3 separate regions of the Homo sapiens genome follow, and all the other regions are reported to be linked to region 1. Evidence: microRNA targets listed by miRTarBase, many of them from high-throughput screens and not tested one by one. Region 1 holds a microRNA gene; each other region holds the end of a gene's coding sequence.

Evidence for each region. The annotated mature microRNA hsa-miR-6859-3p reads UGACCCCCAUGUCGCCUCUGUAG and lies in region 1 at 1,215-1,237, shown strand. An mRNA with a match to its seed (bases 2 to 7 or 8) in the 3' UTR can be bound and repressed. Matches are read on the target gene's strand: a 7mer-m8 pairs with bases 2 to 8, a 7mer-A1 pairs with bases 2 to 7 and ends in A, and an 8mer does both.
Region 2: the mRNA of RAB44 is a reported target of hsa-miR-6859-3p. Seed matches in the 3' UTR shown: 7mer-A1 at 2,819-2,825, 7mer-m8 at 2,807-2,813 and 7mer-m8 at 2,702-2,708.
Region 3: miRTarBase lists GRINA as a target of hsa-miR-6859-3p. Seed matches in the 3' UTR shown: 7mer-m8 at 3,294-3,300.

What each region holds. Positions count from the first base shown.
Region 1 is chr1:185,010-189,127 of GRCh38, reverse strand. It overlaps MIR6859-2 (microRNA 6859-2), which reads left to right and starts at 1,170; the gene lies at 1,170-1,237. It also overlaps the pseudogene WASH9P.
Region 2 is chr6:36,731,522-36,735,639 of GRCh38, reverse strand. It overlaps RAB44 (RAB44, member RAS oncogene family), which reads right to left. Exons shown (of 14, transcript NM_001257357.2): 14 at 2,456-3,637. The coding sequence ends at 3,547. Among named protein-coding and RNA genes, the nearest start is that of RAB44, 36 kb to the right of the region's middle. RefSeq lists an enhancer at 1-380.
Region 3 is chr8:143,992,477-143,996,594 of GRCh38, reverse strand. GRINA (glutamate ionotropic receptor NMDA type subunit associated protein 1) reads right to left here. Exons shown (of 7, transcript NM_001009184.2): 6 at 3,987-4,118; 7 at 3,180-3,903. The coding sequence ends at 3,754. It also overlaps a transcript of PARP10 not described here. Among named protein-coding and RNA genes, the nearest start is that of GRINA, 4.5 kb to the right of the region's middle.

The DNA.
Region 1 (4,118 bases):
CCTACTGAGAGTGCAGGGAACTCAGCACCGTCAACTCCTCGACCCTGCAGGTCAGATTATCCTTGTAGAGGCCCCCTGGATGGCACCAAGATCGGCCCTGGCAAGTAGGTGACCCTGACTTCAGAGCCCTTGCCTGAGGGCCTGGCCTGGCAGCTCTGCTGTTAGAAGCAGGAGGTGTGCAGAGGGTGGGGAGCAGCCCAGCCTCTGTGATCTTCTCCATGGCAGGATCTCCCAGCAGGTAGAGCAGAGCCGGAGCCAGGTGCAGGCCATTGGAGAGAAGGTCTCCTTGGCCCAGGCCAAGATTGAGAAGATCAAGGGCAGCAAGAAGGCCATCAAGGTAGTCCCCATACCCCTGTGTCCTGAGGCTACTGGGCAGTCCCTCCATTTCCCCGTGCCTCTGAGGCTGCCCAGTCTCTGCCCTGCTGCCCACCTGTACCTTGAGCTTTCTTCTCGCCCAGGCTTCCAACTCCACCCTCTCCTGCCAAGCAATCCTAGCCCTCTGAGCCTCTTGGGGCCCCCTCAGACTTGTCCCTGTGTCCACAGGTGTTCTCCAGTGCCAAGTACCCTGCTCCAGGGCGCCTGCAGGAATATGGCTCCATCTTCACGGGCGCCCAGGACCCTGGCCTGCAGAGACGCCCCCGCACAGGATCCAGAGCAAGCACCGCCCCCTGGACGAGCGGGCCCTGCAGGTCTGCTGGCCGCGCATATAGCCTGTCACACACCAGGAGGACTGGATACTGGGGAGGAGCCGGGGCCACCATAGGGTTCTGTCCCCCAGAGGAGGCTGACTGGGATGGGATGGCAGCTGATTAGGCCCAGCACCAAATATTCACCATCCCTTGGCCATCCTGGCCCTCCCAGGAGAAGCTGAAGGACTTTCCTGTGTGCGTGAGCACCAAGCCGGAGCCCGAGGACGATGCAGAAGAGGGACTTGGGGGTCTTCCCAGCAACATCAGCTCTGTCAGCTCCTTGCTGCTCTTCAACACCACCGAGAACCTGTATGGCCAGAGGGCAGGGCCGAGGGGTGTGGGCGGGAGGCCCGGCCTGGCTTAGTGGGGACCCAGGTCATCAGACACAGGTACAGCACATAGGCCAGGAGCCAGGGGGTGACTGGGGTGGCTCGGCTCGGGAGGCCTGGGACCCCACAGTGCACGCTGTGCCCCTGATGATGTGGGAGAGGAACATGGGCTCAGGACAGCGGGTGTCAGCTTGCCTGACCCCCATGTCGCCTCTGTAGGTAGAAGAAGTATGTCTTCCTGGACCCCCTGGCTGGTGCTGTAACAAAGACCCATGTGATGCTGGGGGCAGAGACAGAGGAGAAGCTGTTTGATGCCCCCTTGTCCATCAGCAAGAGAGAGCAGCTGGAACAGCAGGTGGGAGGGGTGGGACAGAGGTGGAGACAGGTGCAGTGGCCCAGGGCCTTGCCAGAGCTCCTCTCCAGTCAAGGCTGTTGGGCCCCTTATTCCACCCATGGGAGGTGCACACAAGGTCTTGTTGGCTGCCCCTGCAGGTCCCTGTCACCTCTCACATGTCCCTGCCTAATCTTGCAGGTCCCAGAGAACTACTTCTATGTGCCAGACCTGGGCCAGGTGCCTGAGATTGATGTTCCATCCTACCTGCCTGACCTGTCCGGCATTGCCAACGACCTCATGTACATTGCCGACCTGGGCCCCGGCATTGCCCCCTCTGCCCCTGGCACCATTCCAGAACTGCCCACCTTCCACACTGAGGTAGCCGAGCCTCTCAAGGTAGGTGAGCTGGGTTCTGGGATGGGAGCTGGGCCGGGGACCTCCCTGGTCACACACCTTCTTCCCTAGACACCCCATACTTTGTGTTTCAGACCTACAAGATGGGGTACTAACACCACCCCCACCGCCCCCACCACCACCCCCAGCTCCTGAGGTGCTGGCCAGTGCACCCCCACTCCCACCCTCAACCGCGGCCCCTGTAGGCCAAGGCGCCAGGCAGGACGACAGCAGCAGCAGCGCGTCTCCTTCAGGTGGGAGCAGCTCTTTGAGGCCACCTGATTTCTGGTGTGCTCAGTGCACTCGGGTGGATTTTCTGTGGGTTTATTAAGTGGTCAGAAATTCTCAATTTTTTGAATAGTTCCCATTTCAAATATCTTGTTCTACTTGGTTCATAAAATAGTGGTTTTCAAACTGTAGAGCTCTGGACTTCTCACTTCTAGGGCAGAGGGAGCCTGAACAAGTGAGGCTCTGGGTTCCCCGTTCCTAATTAAACCAATGGAAAGAAGGGGTCTAATAACAAACTACAGCAACACATTTTTCATTTTAGCTTCACTGCTGTATCTCCCAGTGTAACCCTAGCATCCAGAAGTGGCACAAAACCCCTCTGCTGGCTCATGTGTGCAACTGAGACTGTCAGAGCATGGCTAGCTCTGGGGTCCAGCTCTGCAGGGTGGGGGCTAGAGAGGAAGCAGGGAGTATCTGCACACAGGATGCCCGCGCTCAGGTGGTTGCAGAAGTCAGTGCCCAGGCCCCCCCACACAGTCTCCAAAGGTCCGGCCTCCCCAGCGCGGGGCTCCTCGTTTGAGGGGAGGTGACTTCCCTCCCAGCAGGCTCTTGGACACAGTAAGCTTCCCCAGCCCTGCCTGAGCAGCCTTTCCTCCTTGCCCTGTTCCCCACCTCCTGGCTCCAGTCCAGGGAGCTCCCAGGGAAGTGGTCGACCCCTCCGGTGGCCGGGCCACTCTGCTAGAGTCCATCCGCCAAGCTGGGGGCATCGGCAAGGCCAAGCTGCGCAGCATGAAGGAGCGAAAGCTGGAGAAGAAGAAGCAGAAGGAGCAGGAGCAAGGTGAGCGGGCCCTGGAGCTTGCAGTCGGAGGGCCTTGGGCAAGATCGCCTCCTCCCCTCCAGCCCTGAGTCCACCGGGTGCTTTCTGCCCACCCCCTGCTCTTGCCAACTGGCCCCTGCTTCCCCTAGGGCACATGCTGGAAGCCCTGGGCCGCCACCAGAGGTCCTCAGCCCTCCTGCCTGGGCTATGGCTCCTTCCTGGTTTGGGAGCCATAGTGGAGCTTTCCTCTCTAAGCTCACCCAGCTCAAACTGACAGGAGAATCTTCTTCGACTGCCAAGAGCGGTCCAAGGCAATGGTCAGCCACTGCAGCCTCCTGAGATATTTTTAGAGACTGGACCTGAGGCCTCTGGAGGCTACTGATGATGCCTGCTGTGAACGCAGACACTGGTGTGATGCGATGCCTGCGCCTGCAGCGGCAGTGCCCTGGGCACTATGGTTTTGAGCTTGTACCCAGCGCTGCTTTTGCCTTGCTCTGTGACCCCAGGCAAGCTGCCTCACCTCTCTGGGCCAGTTTCCCCATCGTACAGTGGTGCTGCACACCCTGGCCCTGGCCCCGAGGTGGCTGGGAGGTGGCTCCTCAAACCGCCGCTGTCTCATCAGTGCCTGGTGCTGGGTCAGGGATCGACTGAGGCTCTGAGCTAACTGGGAAACACAGTGGCCTTGGAGGGCTGGGGAGTGTCATGGGGGTGGGGACAGGGAGTCACCGGTCGCATGTGACTGAACTCTTCACCCCAGTCTGTGGCTTTCCCGTTGCAGTGAGAGCCACGAGCCAAGGTGGGCACTTGATGTCGGATCTCTTCAACAAGCTGGTCATGAGGCGCAAGGGTAGGAGGCAGGGCCGCTGCCCGCCCTGGGCCAGCACCTTGTAATTCTGTCCTGCCTTTTTCTTCCTGTATTTAAGTCTCCGGGGGCTGGGGGAACCAGGGTTTCCCACCAACCACCCTCACTCAGCCTTTTCCCTCCAGGCATCTCTGGGAAAGGACCTGGGGCTGGTGAGGGGCCCGGAGGAGCCTTTGCCCGCGTGTCAGACTCCATCCCTCCTCTGCCGCCACCGCAGCAGCCACAGGCAGAGGAGGACGAGGACGACTGGGAATCCTAGGGGGCTCCATGACACCTTCCCCCCCAGACCCAGACTTGGGCCGTTGCTCTGACATGGACACAGCCAGGACAAGCTGCTCAGACCTACTTCCTTGGGAGGGGGTGACGGAACCAGCACTGTGTGGAGACCAGCTTCAAGGAGCGGAAGGCTGGCTTGAGGCCACACAGCTGGGGCGGGGACTTTTGTCTGCCTGTGCTCCATGGGGGG
Region 2 (4,118 bases), not on the chromosome of region 1:
CAGGGCAGCAACGTGCCTGAGGGCAGCTGAGGGGAGACTGGAGAGGGGGCCTCTGTGAATTCTGATGTCGGCCACCTTCCCGGGTCCCACCAGCTTCAGAGACGGCAGGAGGAGGGGAAATGAAGGACCTGTCCTGGATGAAGGCTGTCATCCAGCCACTTTCCTGGCATTTATCACTGCCTTTTCGTCTCTTTTTCCTGGTCCACACCCACCAATGACATGGACTATTACTGGAGAGGAATTGGCAGGGAGCAATACGAGGCTTCAGGGACCTGGCCCCTCCTTCCCCGAAGCATCCGCATCTTCCTGTAAGCAGTTGCATAACTTCAGAGTTAAGTCTATGGGTATCGGCGTTTGCGTTTAACACTGGCTCCAGCACTTACTTGCTACGTGACTACGGGGAAGTTACTCAGCCTCCCTATGCAGTACTTTCCTTTTCCGTAAGATGGGGGAGCACGCCTGATGGTGTGAGGGCTAAATGAATTAACACGAGCTAGGTGCTCAGAACAGTGCCTGGCATACGGTAGGCACTGGGTAAAGGAGGGATGTCATTCTGCCCCTGCTCACCCTCAGCTCCCAAAAGCCCTCTTCTCTTAGAGCTCCTGCCCAGCCTTCCTTCTCTCCCCATGCCCTCCCTTCTCACTCCACAGCCTGAGTCCCATCAGCCCAGTCCCACCCTCCTTTTCTTAATCAGACTCTGGCTAAGCCTAAATCAGAGCCTCCTTGGCTGACATGCCCCAAGAACTCACCACTTGCCTGGAAGTTCACTCTGAAGTCTACCTCAAGTTTCTCCTGCTGCTGTCGTTGCCTACTTTGTGCTGCTCTGAGGTTCCTGGGTCCTGTTCCCTGGCTTGTGAGCCCTTTGACAGCAGGAAAGGCTGGTGGTCCTTGCACAGCTGTGCCCTGCCCAGCAGGTGGATCCGGCCCAAGAAAGCCAAAAGAGGGTGCTGGGCAGTGTGGAGTTCCTCCCAGAACTCCACCTCCTGCGAACCTGAGTTGCCTGAGGCCACAACAGAGCTGAGCTGAGACGGGGAGGCCTGGGGGCCACTCCCGTACCGGGCCCCCAAACGACAGGGGCTGTCTGCTCTACTGCCTCTCCCAGGAATCACACCCTGCCTACCTGCCTCATTAATTCCCTGGCCTACAGGACAGAGATGTTGGTGCCTGCCAGGTCCCTGGGCCCCAGAGAAAGAGCCATTAGCAACTATAGGACCTGTTTCCCATCCTTATCCAGGGCCAGCATCACTCACTGCAGCCCACACCCCTCTCTCTCTCTCTCTCTCTCTCTCTCTCTCTCTCTCTCTCTCTCTCTCTCTCTCTCTCTCTGAGCACACTGAGAAACTGCTCAGTTCAGGGGCAGGCTTGTGGGCTGCGGGAGGGGACCTGAGATGGGAGAAGACATTGGGGTAAAAAGGATCAGTGAAGGGCCCAGTAAAAGAATCAGCTGGAGGGCCGGGCGCGGTGGCTCATGCCTGTAATCCCAGCACTCTGGGAGGCCGAGGCGGGTGGATTATGAGGTCAAGAGATCGAGACCATCCTGACCAACATGGTGAAACCCCGTCTCTACTAAAAATACAAAAAATTAGCTGGGTGAGGTGGCGGGCGCCTGTAGGCCCAGCTACTTGGGAGGCTGAGGCAGGAGAATGGCGTGAACCCGGGAGGTGGAGGTTGCAGTGAGCCGAGATTGCGCCCCTGTGCTCCAGCCTAGCGACTGAGTGAGACTCCGTCTCAAAAAAACAAAACAAAACAAAACAAAACAAAAACACACAAAGAATCAGCTGGACCATGGGAATCATCCACATGGAGTCTGGAGGTTGAATGGGGTCCATTAAGGGAATCTAATCCAACTTTGGCAGCTTCAGATGCTGGGATCTTCTCTACCTCACCTTTGCCAAGCATTACCTGTCTTCTTGTGCGCCTCTGGTGATGGAAGGCTCACTGCTGCTGAGACGTTCCTTTCAGAACTGAGAAGAGGGGTTGGGGCCAGGGCCTAAGACTGTGTGATGCAACAGCCCTCTGTTGCTCCCTCTTTCTCCTTCGTTCTCTCTCTCTGTAACTCTGTTCCTTGAACTGTCTTTGCTTGTCCCCCTATGAAACTGGGGTTTCCATTGATTCAGCCAGGAAATTCCCCAGTACCTGAAGGATTACAAAATACCAAACCCAGGCTGGGGGCGGTGGCTCACGCCTGTCATCCCAGCACATTGGGAGGATCACTTGAGCCCAGGAGTTTGAGACCAGCCTAAGCAACATTGCAAGACCTTGTGTTTGCAAATAGCTAAAAAATTAGCCGGATGTGGTGGCATGTGCCCATGGTCCCAGCTACTTGGGAGGCTGAGGTGGGGGAATCACTTGAGCCCAGACAGTTGAGGCTGTTGTGAGTGGCGATCATGCCAATGTACTCCAGCCTGCGCAACAGAGAGAGATCCTGTCTCAAAAAACAAACAAACAAATTCAGTGCCTGGCACATGTTGTATATTCAATTTGTGATGATGGTAAGATGTGACAGACATACAAACGAAGACCATGGCCGTCTCTCCAAGACTCTAAAGCAAGCTCTCCGAGGGCACTGGAAACCCCAGCCCTAGCTGATAAGGGGCAGCCACCATTCAGGAGGTGAATATTATGGAATTCTGGAAACTTCCACAAAAGCTCCAAATAGAAGTGTGTGAATGATTCTGAGTCTCGGCTCCCCAGCTGCTTGGACCCCCCAGCCACACCCTAGCTGCCCCTCAAATGCATCCAGAGACTGACAACTCAGGCCAAAGCCCTGTGCTTGGGGACACCATGGCATTGGAGCAGGGGGCGGGACCCCCAAATGTGACCCCTGGGAGGTGTGTTTTGTATGGTGGGGAAAGGGAGTGAGGTTGGGGCTCTGGAAGACAGGAGGGCATCGAGGCATATCAGAGGCCTTTGGAACATTACTCTTCCCAGGAACCAGATTCTGCTGGGAAGAAAGCCCATGCTTGCAAATAGAAATAGCGAGGGAGACCAGGCCAACAGCGCCCTGCCAAGCAGAGCACAGAGGGACCGCTCTAACACCGAGCAACATGTGATTAACAGGTTACACTAATTAGGAGCCAGCAGCACCCAAGGGAGCTCCTTGGGAAGTTTCTCTCCTCCTCCTCCACATCTCTTTTTTCTGATTATGTATTGAATACTGTTATTGTTGAAAATCTGAAAATACAAATATGTGTAAAATGGAAAGTAACACCCCCCCCCCACATTCTCCCTAAAATTTTACACCCACAGATGTGCGGCCAATATTTTGGTGTATTTTCCTTAAGTCGTTTTTCTAGACTTTCTTTGTTTGGAGAGTTTTGCCATACCCCTGCCCCTCAAGCCTTGTTCACTCAGCAAAGCCCTCCTTTGGAGTGTGAAAGGCAGAGGTGATGCGGCCCTGCTCTGGGATCCGAGTCCTGAGTTGAGAAGGGTTTTCCTGAACCTCCAAGCTGGTCCTCTGTGTCGTTGCTGTCCAGGAACAAAGGACAGGAGCTGAGGGACAGGAAACCCCATGGGTGTCCATCCTACCCAGGACAGGACAGGTGATCAGGAGCAACAGCCGAATCTCTTGGGCGGCCTCTTGGGGGCCACCTTCACCAGCGAGTCCTTCAGGCCTTCTTCTTGCATCCTGAGTGACCTATGTGACAGTGCCAGGCATCAGGCCTCTCTCTCACCTCCTACGGGCAGCACGGATGGGCCCATGGGTGCAGCTGGGGGGTGGGAGGCCGCACCCACAACCCCCACAACAGCTCTGCCCCTGCCCTGCATTCCACATGAGACCCGAAGAATTGAGTCACTGAGACTTTGACCTTCTCTTTCTGGCCTACTATGTGCCAGGCACTGTGCAGGACTCTGACTATGACAAAGAAGCCACCATTCCCTCCCTTGAGTAGTGAGAGAGACAGACAGGAAAAGGGGTGACTGCAGCCCGGGAATGATGGGGAGGCACACAGGGACTTCACACCAGGTCCTGGAGGGATCTGGGGAGGAAGGAGATGGTGACCGAACTGAGCCATGGACAAGGTATGCCAGCAGAAAGGGTGGGGGAGGTGCATCCCAAGCAGAGGGCCATGGCGCGGCTCAGTGCCGAGAGAGCTTGGAGGCTGGGGAAGCAAAAG
Region 3 (4,118 bases), not on the chromosome of region 1:
AGGCCCTGGACTAGGTGCTAGGCTGGATGTTAAAACTCACAGAGCACAGTCTCTGTTCTGAAGGTGCTTCCAATCCAGAGCTGCAGAACAGTGGCCCCAGTTAGCCAGAGGCAGTGGAATGGGGTTCCCGTGCTGGTTTCACCTGAGCTGGGGTCCAGAGCTGGCCCCAACTGTCTGTTAGGGTTTCAGCAGGCACCGTTGATTGACAGCGTTGCTTTGCAGGGTGGGGAATGGGGTGGAGACTTGGACATTTTGTTCCATAGATGTCTGTGTTGTTTAATCTTGAAATCAAGTGTGGGTTTAATATTTGCTTACGTATATAACTTGTTTTTTGATTGAGAAATAAATTCCTTTATTTAAGTCTCTTTTTGGCCTTCATATAGTCAGTGACCTGTGTCAGTGCTCCTTGTGAAGCCCCGGGGACACGCCCATGCTTGAACACGCCCGTGGCTGCTCATCGTGGGGGAGCGTCCACACCCTGGGGCGTCGTGTTAAGAGGGTGCTGGAAAGGACTTCTTACAGGATTTGGCTTGAGTAATCTGGGGGAGGGTTTAGGGAAGCGGGACTCTGCTCTGGATTGGTGCTGTCAGGAAGCAGGCGTCATTCTGCAACTGGGAATCTCAATGCATCGTATTTGGAAGGAGGACAGACTAGAGCCAGGCTAGAGCTGTCAGCTGTGAAGAGGCAGCAGCCACTCAGACTGGCTGGGACAGGGCACTGCTTGCCCTTTTTACAGCTTGGACAGTGCCCATGTTTTGTCTGTGTTCAGAGTGATAACAGAGGGGTCTTGTTTTTGTATTGATCCATCATGGTCAGAGTAGTCTGATGTTGATGTTCTATGCAATTTTAACCAGGAGACACTGAGGGCTCTATCTGTGAGTGCCAGGACAGCTCCTAGCAACACCAAGGCCTCTATCTGTGAGTGCCAGGACAGCTCCTAGCAACACTGAGGCCTACAAGATAGGACCAGATCAGCTCCCAGATGTCAGCGACTGGTCTTCTTTCTACCTGAAGAATCAGTGTGGTGGCCTCACAATTGCTACAGGTGCGTTCAGCCTCATGACTCCATGTGAGCACCCCGTGCCGATTCATCTGCCTGGCCACATCACCACGTACTCGGACTCATTTCACTCCCTGGCTGGGACACAGCAGATAGCAGACCTCTCAGTTGTCAGACACATCCCACTGGCCTTCGGCTGTGCCCAGCCTGGCTTAATTGGCACCTCCCGATGCTTCTGGAGGCGTCTGTGCTCCCAGCTCCTCTCTGGCATGTCTCAATGGCTTCCTTGTGGCCCACTTCACCTGTTCACAGCCCCATGACTTCCCCTGCACCGTCTATTGCCAGACTCATCTTCCTAAACACAAACCCAGCTGTGGCCCCTGCCTGAGTGCCCTTCACCTGCAGGATAGGCCCAAGCCCTCCTGTGTTCAGCCCTGGCCTTCTCTCTGGCAGTGGGGGTCTTTGCTGTGGACCCTCCACCCCCTGGCCCTGTCCCACACCTCTGGAGCTTGCCGTTCCCAGGGAGCCTCACTAAAGCCTCTCCCTCTCAGCCAAGAGTTTGTGTCCGTCTCAAACTCCTCAAGAAAACAATGTCCTGGCACATTTCACTTGGCAGTTACTCCCGAGACCACCCCTGCCCCCGCCCTGACGTTCTCGTTAGCCACATAAACACTTTATTCTCCTCTTTCGTATAAAATCCTGAGGGGTCTGGGAGCTAGAGCTAGGCAGGTTCTTTCTCCTCCTCAGCATGCTGGAGCACAGGCGGGCACCCAGAGGAGGAACTGCACCTGCTCAGGAAATAGCCGGAAGGGGAGGTGGGGGAAGGGGGAGCCGTGTGGCCCACTCGCTGCTCAGCATGTGATTAGCCGCTGCAGAGGGCAAGGTGGACTCCAGGAGGTGCCCTCGTGGCTGGGAAGGCAGTGTGTGTCCCCACACTGGCAGAGGGACTGTCTGTGAACAATGACAGCACTGCAGCAGGGAGCCCACTCGTGACTCAGGTTGTGCAGGGTCAGGGCCCCCGGCTGAGAGGCAAAAGGACAACAGGAGGGCAGCTGGAGCCACCAGTGGGCAGATGGCAGGGCCCGCGTACCAGGCTAAGGAGCGTGGACTTCATCCTGAGGGCACCACCGAGGGTTTTAGGCAGGCGGGTAGTGCAACGGATGTGATTGATGTTTCAGAAACACACCGCTAGGGTCCTGGTGGAGGGCGGGGCAGGCGAGGAGGCCAGGTGAGGCAGGGGAGGTTGGGAGGGAGAGGGAAGCGGGGCAGCCCCTGCTCTGGCCTGGAGATAATGCAGGAGCAGGTTTCAGGAAGGATGAGCTTGGCTCTGGGCACCCCACAACTGCGGTGCCCGCGGACATCAGGGTGGTGCTGGCTTCGTACACAGAGGTGCTAAGGGGACTGACTGGGCAGTGGGGAGGGGCCTTGAGAGATCCTCAGGCCACGCTGCATGCAGAGCCTCGAGGCTGCAGTGGGAATATCCAAGTCCAAAGCTGCCTCTGGGCCTAGAGCCGCGGGGTGTGAGAGCTCAGCAGGGCTCAGACCAGCCAGGTCCCAGGCAATGGAGGGACCCCCTGCAGGAGCAGCAGGCGTCACAGGGCAGGAAACGCACTGCAGGCTGGGGCTGAGGGCTCCAAAGGACCGGGCCTGGGCAGGCCAAGGGGCCCAAATGGCTGAGCCCTCAGTCTCTGTCCAGCTCTTGGACGGGATCTCCAGCCTGTGTTTCTCATGGGGAGGCTGGAGAGAGGCAGGCCTGGGTGGAATATCAGGGTGCCCACACAGATGGACTGCACAGAGCTGGGGAGGCCCAAGGAGCGCCCAAGGAGCATGGCAGGCTGCCCTGGGGCAGGCCAATGACCTGTGCCGCTGGCCCAGGCGACAGAAGAGTGAGGCGGCTATACCGTGCCATCTCCACGGAGCACCTGGTAGACACAGCCAGGCCACTTACCATTGGGGTACCCCAGCACAGGCTTAACTCACTCTGGGCACCCCAGGGTCTCTGTCCATCAGTTGGGAACCCAACACACACCTTATGATGTAGCTGTGTGTGGGCAGAGGCTTGGCACTGTATTAATCTCCACTATTCATTTCTGGTCCTGTGTCTCCATCAGCAGGGAGGGCCTGGAGCCCCTCCCAACTTCATGTTGAAAGTGGCAGGGAGAAGAGTGACCAGGGGAAGGCAGAGAGCAAATCCCATTTATTGGAATTTCACTGACAACAAATTGAGAGGAAGGCTTCCCCCTCCCCTGAAACATGCCATCCTCTCTGCCCTCAGGGCTCAGCACAGGGATAAGACCCCCACTCCGCATGTCCCCAGAGGGCAGCACTCCAGGGGGGTGGGGGGGAGGGGAGGGGTGCTCTACGCCAGGCTGGGGAGCTGGGACAGGAGGGAAGACGTGCACCCTCACCTCTTGGCTCAATCCCTCTCCCCGGGACCTGGTGCTGCCCCCAGTCCCTGGGGTGGGCTGGCAGACAGGGCTCATGCAACAATGAGTAGACAGGAGGTGGCACGGAAACGTGGCCTTGGTGCCCCTTGGCGGGGGCGGGAGGACTAAAGGGGCCATGCTGTGGCCACAGCGGGTCCAAATGGAAGTATCTGCAGTGTACATACAGGAGGGTTGGAGAGAGGCATCCTTTTCCCTAGGCTGTGCCTGGGGACAAGAGAGAGGGGAAGTACAGCTGGCACTGCCGTGCCAGGGGCAGGGTCCAGGCCAGCCGTGCCACCTGAGCGGGCACAGCGAGCTGGAGCTCGGCTACTCCTTGGCGCGGCCAATGATGGTGAGGATGTACAGGAAGATGTTGATGATGTCTGTGTACAGGTTCAGCGCAGCAAACACATACTCTTCTGGGCTCAGGGACAGCTGCTTGTTCCCCAGTAGCAGCTGGGTGTCCACTGCGAGGAACTGGAGGTGACAGCACAGTGGTGTTGAGGGACAAGCCTGCCTGCCCAGCATCCCGCCCCCGGCCAAGGTCACCCCTCACTCACGCAGGTGAAGAGCAGAGCGCCCAGTGAGGCGTACACGATCTCCAGGATGCGGTTCCGGATGAAGATGCAGAGAATGGCGAAGATGAAGAGCACCACCATGCTCACCAGGAGCACGCCCATGCATGAGGTGAA